2 linked regions of the Homo sapiens genome follow. The protein of the gene in region 2 purifies or fractionates together with the protein of the main gene of each other region. This does not show direct contact. Each region holds a gene or a part of one and is shown on either strand. Other genes may lie near its edges.

Evidence for each region. The genes of interacting proteins can lie anywhere in the genome.
Region 1: the proteins of PDCL3 (region 2) and ACTR1A purify together in Homo sapiens (co-immunoprecipitation; 2 studies listed by BioGRID and IntAct, with this or other methods). This does not show direct contact.

What each region holds. Positions count from the first base shown.
Region 1 is NC_000010.11:102,482,221-102,485,712, forward strand, and holds part of ACTR1A (alpha-centractin), read right to left. Parts: coding exon 3,389-3,492; intron 2,157-3,388; coding exon 1,940-2,156; intron 884-1,939; coding exon 791-883; intron 1-790. UniProt on the Homo sapiens protein: Part of the ACTR1A/ACTB filament around which the dynactin complex is built. The dynactin multiprotein complex activates the molecular motor dynein for ultra-processive transport along microtubules.
Region 2 is NC_000002.12:100,565,993-100,569,492, forward strand, and holds part of PDCL3 (phosducin-like protein 3), read left to right. Parts: intron 1-510; coding exon 511-637; intron 638-2,938; coding exon 2,939-3,029; intron 3,030-3,500. UniProt on the Homo sapiens protein: Acts as a chaperone for the angiogenic VEGF receptor KDR/VEGFR2, increasing its abundance by inhibiting its ubiquitination and degradation.

The sequences.
Region 1 (3,492 bases), on a different chromosome or scaffold from region 2:
GTCCCTTTGGGAGTGGGAATGGAAGACGCCCCTCTGCACGTCACTTAGTAACTGGGTGGCTATGAAGGCCAGGCTCAAGACAGACTCTACATGTCAAGGGCTTAAAGGAACAAAGATAGGCCTCCTGGAAACTAGTGAGGGGAGGCTCCTATATTTCCTTCTCGCTCTGGCATTTTCCAGCCAAGAGGTCTTTGGCATCAGTACATGGATTTATTTGCTCATGGAAACGTCTTCCTAGCAATGGGGGTTCAAGGGAGTGGTAACTCACCCTACACTGCACCCAGGTGTGGTGAAGGATGGCACTAACCATCCCACTTCCTAATCTCATACTGATGTGGGACAATCCCTTAGGAGCTTCCTCCCCTCTAGCGGGAGGGAGCAAAGTTCTGGCTGCCTCCTCTGCAGGAGACAGGGCCACTCATGCTCAGGAGCTCTGCTGCTCCAGAGAGAGGGTGTAAGGCTGGGGTGTCCAGTCTTTTGGCTTCCCTGGGCCACATTGGAAGAAGAATTGTCTTGGGCCACACATAATATACACTAACACTAATGACAGCTGCTGAGCTAAAAAAAAAAATTGCAAAAGAATCTCATAATGTTTTAAGAAAGTTTACGACTTTGTGTTGGGCCTTACTGAAAGCCATCCTGGGCCACGTGCAGCCCATGGGCCAGGGGTTGGACAAGCTTGGTGTAAAGGGACTGGCCTGCCAGACTCCAGACCCTGATGGAGAATTCTGGTTGGGCCCAGAGCTTTTGTGGACCTAAGGGGACCGAAGAAAGAAGGCAGGCCACCTACCTCAATGGTGCTGCCATCAGGCAGGTAGTACTGAGCTTTCTCTGTCTCTAGCGTCTCATCCTTTTGGGGGTTTATGGATAGGTAACAGGCTCTCTGCAGATCCAAGCAAGACAGTCAGGCTGGCAGGAAATCTGGTGCACATCCAGTCAAAGGCCCAGGGGAGGAATGTGCTGCTGCACAAACCTGTCTAAACGTTGTGATGGCCCCAATGGTCACTATAGCTGCTGCCCAGAAGCAGGGGCAGTGAGGTCTCTGTTGGCCTTCACTGGGTGGCATTTAGCATATGAGTTCTTAACCGCTCCACCTTCCTGATGGGCAAGCTTGGAAACTTGGCCCCTGGATCCTAGGTCTGAGACCACAACCTAAGTTCAGCCCAGGCCCAGGCATCTTTCTCCTTCTACCACTCATATGGTTCTGGTCCTACCCAGCTCGAGTTTTCCCTATAGCCACAGGTGGCAGGAGGTTTCAGTTTACTTACAAAGACAAATGTTTTAAATGTATTATGACTTCTTCAAGGATGTTAAAAAAATAAAAATAAAAAAACCAGGAGTGGGCGCGGTAGCTCATGCTGCAATTCTAGCACTTTGGGAGGCTGAGGCGGGCAGATCACTTGTGGTCAGGAGTTTGAGACCAGCCTGATCAACATGGTGAAACCATGTCTCTGCTAAAAATACAAAAATTAGTGGGGTGTGGTGGCAGGCACCTATAATCCCAGCTACTTGGGAGGCTGAGGCAGGATTCAAGCGATTGCTTGAACCCGGGAGGCAGAGGTTACAGTGAGCCGAGATCACACCATTGCACTGCAGCCTGGGCGACAGAGCGAGACTCCATCTCAGAAACAAAACAAAATGAAACAAAACCAAACCCTATGTAATTTGCATATAAGGTATAAAAAACATACTGAGCCCCTATGTAGCCATCACCCAACTGAAGAAATGGAAGCAGCTCCCTTTCCCCCAACAAGATGGCAGCACGTCAGGAAGGCGAATCTGTCAGTGTGACGTAGGGGAGACCTGGCTGGGAAGAACAAGGCCTCACCAGGGACCCCCAGGCAGGTGCTTTGCCTGGCTTCACTGGCAGGTCACCAAGGTCCTGGGTGCTATGCTCCCAACCCCCACTCCATCCCTAGGCCCAGGGGGCAGCACTTACTTCTTTTATGGCCTTGACAATCTCAAACTCAGAGGATGAGTGGAAGTCGTAGCCCTCCTTACGCAGGTAGAGGCGCAGGAAGCGAGAGACGTCCCGGCCCGCGATGTCGATGCGCATGATGGAGTGGGGCATGGCAAAGCCCTCATAGATGGGCACAGCATGGGTGACTCCATCCCCAGAATCCAGCACCACCCCTGTGGTCCTGCCTGTAGCGTAACTGAAGCAAAGGGGCAAACCGTCACTCAGCACTGCCTCCTCACGCTGGGAAGAAATACACTTCTTTATTTAGGGTTCAATGTCAGCTAAACTAAAGCTTGGGCCTGCCTCTCTCCAGGGTCTGTAGAATGGACTGGGTACTAAGGAAGCCCAGGTGTTGGAGCAAGCCATGAAATACCTGAACGGAAGTTGCTGATCTTCTCCAAGTTCCCTCCCCGTACCCAGAAGAGCAGGCCTTCCTGTCTGAGATGGCCTGGCCTTCAGCTGCTTCAGAGACCCAGCCTAGGGGCCAGTTTTAACTCTCTAGACAAAAGGCAAAAACCCTCAAATGTCAACAGGGGCCAGGCAGGAAAAGTAAGAGTAAAGAAAAATAAGAATATTTTTCACTTCCATAAAAAACAAAGGCAGGAGAAGACCCTGCTTTACTGGTTTGAGAGCCCGGGGACCTTTGTCAGCCTCCCTCCAAAAAAAGGCAAGTGAGGCAACTGACCCCCTGCTTCAGTGCGGAGAGGCCAACAGAGCATGGACAGGCTGTGGGGAGGGTGGGCTTGCCAGCCCCATCTCAAGTGGCAGCCGCTCTTCAGCTCCAGCTGATTTTTGCCCTGTGGGAATGTGTGCCCGACCTTCCCAGATCTTCCCATTTTTTCAGAGAAGCCAAAAATTTGGGTTTTGATGGGACACCTCTTGATTTTTAAATGCTGGCTCACAGTTTGTTAATGGGGTCAAATAAATCCCACGTGTAGGTCACTTGTGGATAATCTCTGCCGTAGACCTCACTCTGGTGTGAGGTGGGGTAGGAGTGTGACAGGAGCCACGGGGGATGGGAACAAGGACTGTGGTGGCATTCGGATCATGGTTGTCTCACAGCCTGGCAGAGCAGCTGGCCACAGTAAGTGCTGAATAATAAGTGGACACATTACGGGGGCCTCCGGGAAGAGCTGCTGCAGCATGTGGCTGCCTCGGCAGGCCCAGCCAAGGCCTTGGGGACCAAACCCACTAGGAGTCCTGACACTGGGATATGGTCAATAGCAGCCACATGTCCTTCTTTGCTTTCAACTACGAAGCCTCAGTGCTCAGTTTCAGCAAAAGCCTCTCTCTCTTTCCCACCATCTTTAACCTTTCCCTAGCAGAGGGGGCTCAAGTTACTCTGAACCATTCCAGAGGAGAGCCAGCCTCAGCTGTGCCAAAGGACTGCTTTCCCCGCAGGGGCCGGGCTAGCCAGCTGCTACTCACAGGCTGAGTACAGCTTGCATGGAGATGAAAAGAGCGGGCACATTGAAGGTCTCGAAGAAAACTTCGGCAGCTCGTTCCCGGTTTTTTCGTGGGTTTAAAGGCGC
Region 2 (3,500 bases):
TCCCGGGTTTATGCCATTCTCCTGCCTCAGCCTCCCAAGTAGCTGGGACTACAGGTGCCCGCCACCACGCTCGGCTAATTTTTTGTATTTTCAGTAGAGACGGGGTTTCACCGTGTTAGTCAGGATGGTCTCTATCTCCTGACCTCGTGATCCGCCTGCCTCAGCCTCCCAAAGTGCTGGGATTACAGGCGTGAGCCACTGTGCCCGGCACTCTCAGTCATTATTAAAAATATTGAACACATGCCAAGTCAGAGCCTTGGTATCCGTATTGATACTGATCTGCACTCCCTATCCTAATTTTTACCCCAAGAATAGCTCCTCCATTCAGGGAGGGGTAGACAGGAAAAACAAAACGGGGGCTATGGATCTTTTGACACTTTCTCAGAAATAGTTCACAGACTGGTGTGCATTCCTCCCTTCCTGTCACTTTTCCCATTTGGCCCCTTGCCCAACGTGGCACCCTACATACTAGACTTAGCACTCATGGTAACCTTGGTCCCGCTCTTCTAGGACCCCAACGCAGACACTGAATGGAATGACATCTTACGCAAAAAGGGTATCTTACCCCCCAAGGAAAGTCTGAAAGAATTGGAAGAGGAGGCAGAAGAGGAGCAGCGCATCCTCCAGCAGTCAGTGGGTGAGTTCACTCGCTTTCCTCTGCACCTGTCTGGGTTAGGAGATGGCTCCCTAAGCCTCTGACTGCCCTGCCAGGAGACAGGTTGGAGTGCCAGCATGGACACTCTGTGTCTGTGGGACCTCAGACAAAACACAGGGCGTCTCTCACCTTCACCTTCCTGAGCCATAGACTTAGGGGACTTCAGATATGTCCCACAAGTCCTTGTCCATGTCACATGAGCACTGAAGAAAATACTTCTTTCTGCTTTCTGGTCTGTGATTCCCTTTGATAATGTCATGGAAATTTGTTCAAGGTTTTTAGTACTTGTATTTTCCTGAGCATATACTTTATTTTCTGTGGTTTCATTGAGGATATTAACTAAAAATTGCTTCATTTGGGGAGGCATAAGATGTTTGCAATGTGTGGGAGTCTGAGGGGGGTTTTCTCAAAGGCAGTTGTACTGTCTGAATTGGAGTCCCTTGGAGTGCTGGTAACCCCACCCACCTAGTGTTTACTGAAGCAGTCTCTGGAATGAGGCCCAGGAATCTGCATTTTAAACAAGTGCCTTAAAGGATTCTGATGCGTGTCATAGTTTGAGAAGCACTGGTCCCAGGGACTAGTACTTTTGTCCTCTGTTGACACATTAGAGCTAATTTAGAGAAGGATTTATTAGAAAGTATCCAGCGAGTGCTTACTGCATGATTATCATTGTCAGGTGCTTTTCTGGGGTTGGGGATTTAGCTATGCATAAGCCAGAGACAATTCTCTGCCCTCAGAGAACCAACATTCAAGTGGGGGAGACAGACAATAAACAATAAAGAAAATAAGGCAGTAAAAGGGACTAGAAAGGGTTGGAGGAGAAGCAGGCTCAGAGAGGGCCTCACTGAGATGACATTTGCATGGACCTGAAGGAGGTGAAGCTGGCATTTGGGTAAAGACCTGAAGGAGCTGAAGAACACATTTGAATAGACCTGAGGGAGTTGTTGAGACCTGAAGGAGGTGAAGAAGACATCTGGGTATTCCTGAAGGGGGTGACGTGAGCGAGTGAAATATGGGCCCTGGCATGGCTGGGAATCCCTGAGGAGCTGGAGGCGCTGGGGGAGAGAGTTCAGAGCAGCCTCAGCAGACCCAGAAGCTTCTAGTAAGGACCTTGGCCTTTACACCTAATGAGGCAGGAAGCTTTTGGATGTTTAAACAGAAGAGTGACATTTTCTCTTTTTTGTTTTTTTTTTGAGATGGAGTCTCGCTCTCTTACCCAGGCTGGACTGCAGTGGCGCAATCTTGGCTCACTGCAACCTCCGCCTCCCAGGTTCAAGCGATTCTCCTGCGTCAGCCTCCCGAGTAGCTGGGATTACAGACATGTGCCACCACGCCTAGGTAATTTTTTGTAGCGATGAGGTTTCACCATGTTGGCCAGGCTGGTCTCAAACTCCTGACCTCTAGTGATCCGCCCACCTCAGCCTCCCAAAGAGCTGGGATTATAGGCGTGAGCCACTGCACCCAGCCAAGGGATGCATTAACTTGGAGATCCCTATTAGACAAATAGCCACATTAAGAGGGCCCTTGGGTATGTTTTTCTCTACATTAGAGAAGTCTGGGCTGGAGGCCTATACTTTGGGAGTTGTCAGCATATTGATAGCACTGAAAGCCATGAGATTAGATGCAATCACCGAGGGAGTGGGTGTGGATAAAGAAGAAAAGTAGTCAAAGGTTTGAGCCTGGGGAATTTTAATCAGCAAAGGGTTCAACAGTAGGGCGGCTGGCTCACTCCTGTAATCCCAGCACTTTGAGATGGGCAGATCACTTGAGGTCAGAAGGTTCAAGACCAGCTTGGCCAACATGGTGAAACCCTGTCTCTATTAATGATACAAAAATTAGCTGGGTGTGGTGGCACACGCCTGTAATCCCAGCTACTCAGGAGGCTGAGGCAGGAGAATTGCTTGAATCTGGGAGGCGGAGGTTCTCAGTGAGTCAAGATCGCACCATTGCACTCCAGCCTGGATGACAAGAGTGAAACTCTGTCTCCAAAAAAAGGAAAATAAGCGGGGCAGGGTGAGGCGGAATAGGAGAAGAGAGGGGAGGAGGATCTGAGGGCTTGGGTAAAATGTTGTCAGTCAATAAATTGGGATTACAGGTGTGAGCCACCATGCCTGGCCTCTCAGCTTCTAATGTAGTGTGGTGCCTTAAGTAATTTTTGTTTAGGTAGGCTAAGGATCTGGTGTTGTGTGCATATCTTTAGGAGAAAAGAGAGGGGAAAAAAGAAAAATACATGTTCGTTCATCTTTTTAAATTTTTGCTTTTTGCCAATGTAACCAAATTCAGTGAAAACATATGAAGATATGACTTTGGAAGAGCTGGAGGATCATGAAGACGAGTTTAATGAGGAGGATGAACGTGCTATTGAAATGTACAGGTAAGCGCCACCCAGAGGGGCTGTTTGTTTTTTTGTTGTTGTTTGTTTTGTTTTGGTTTTTTTTTTGGCGTGGCAATAAAATGTGTGGGCTGAGCATGGTGACTCATACCTGTAGTCCCAACACTTTGGGAGGCTGAGGCAGGCAGATCGCTTGAGCTCAGAAGTTTGAGACCAGCCTGTGAAACCCCGTCTCTATAAATAATACAAAAACTAGCTGGGTGTGGTGGTGAACGGCTATAGTTCCAGCTACTCAGGAGCCCTGGAAGTGGAGGTTGCAGTGAGCTGAGACTGTGCCACTGCACTCCAGCCTGTGTGACAGAGCCAAACTCTGTCTCAAAAAATAAAATGAAATGTGTGTCCTTCAAAAAATTAATTTTCAGCTGAAACATCTAGGAGCGACTGCAATTAAATAATATTGTGAATTTTAGCAAACTGATCTTAGATTTTTGCCATAAGACCAATAAATAAACC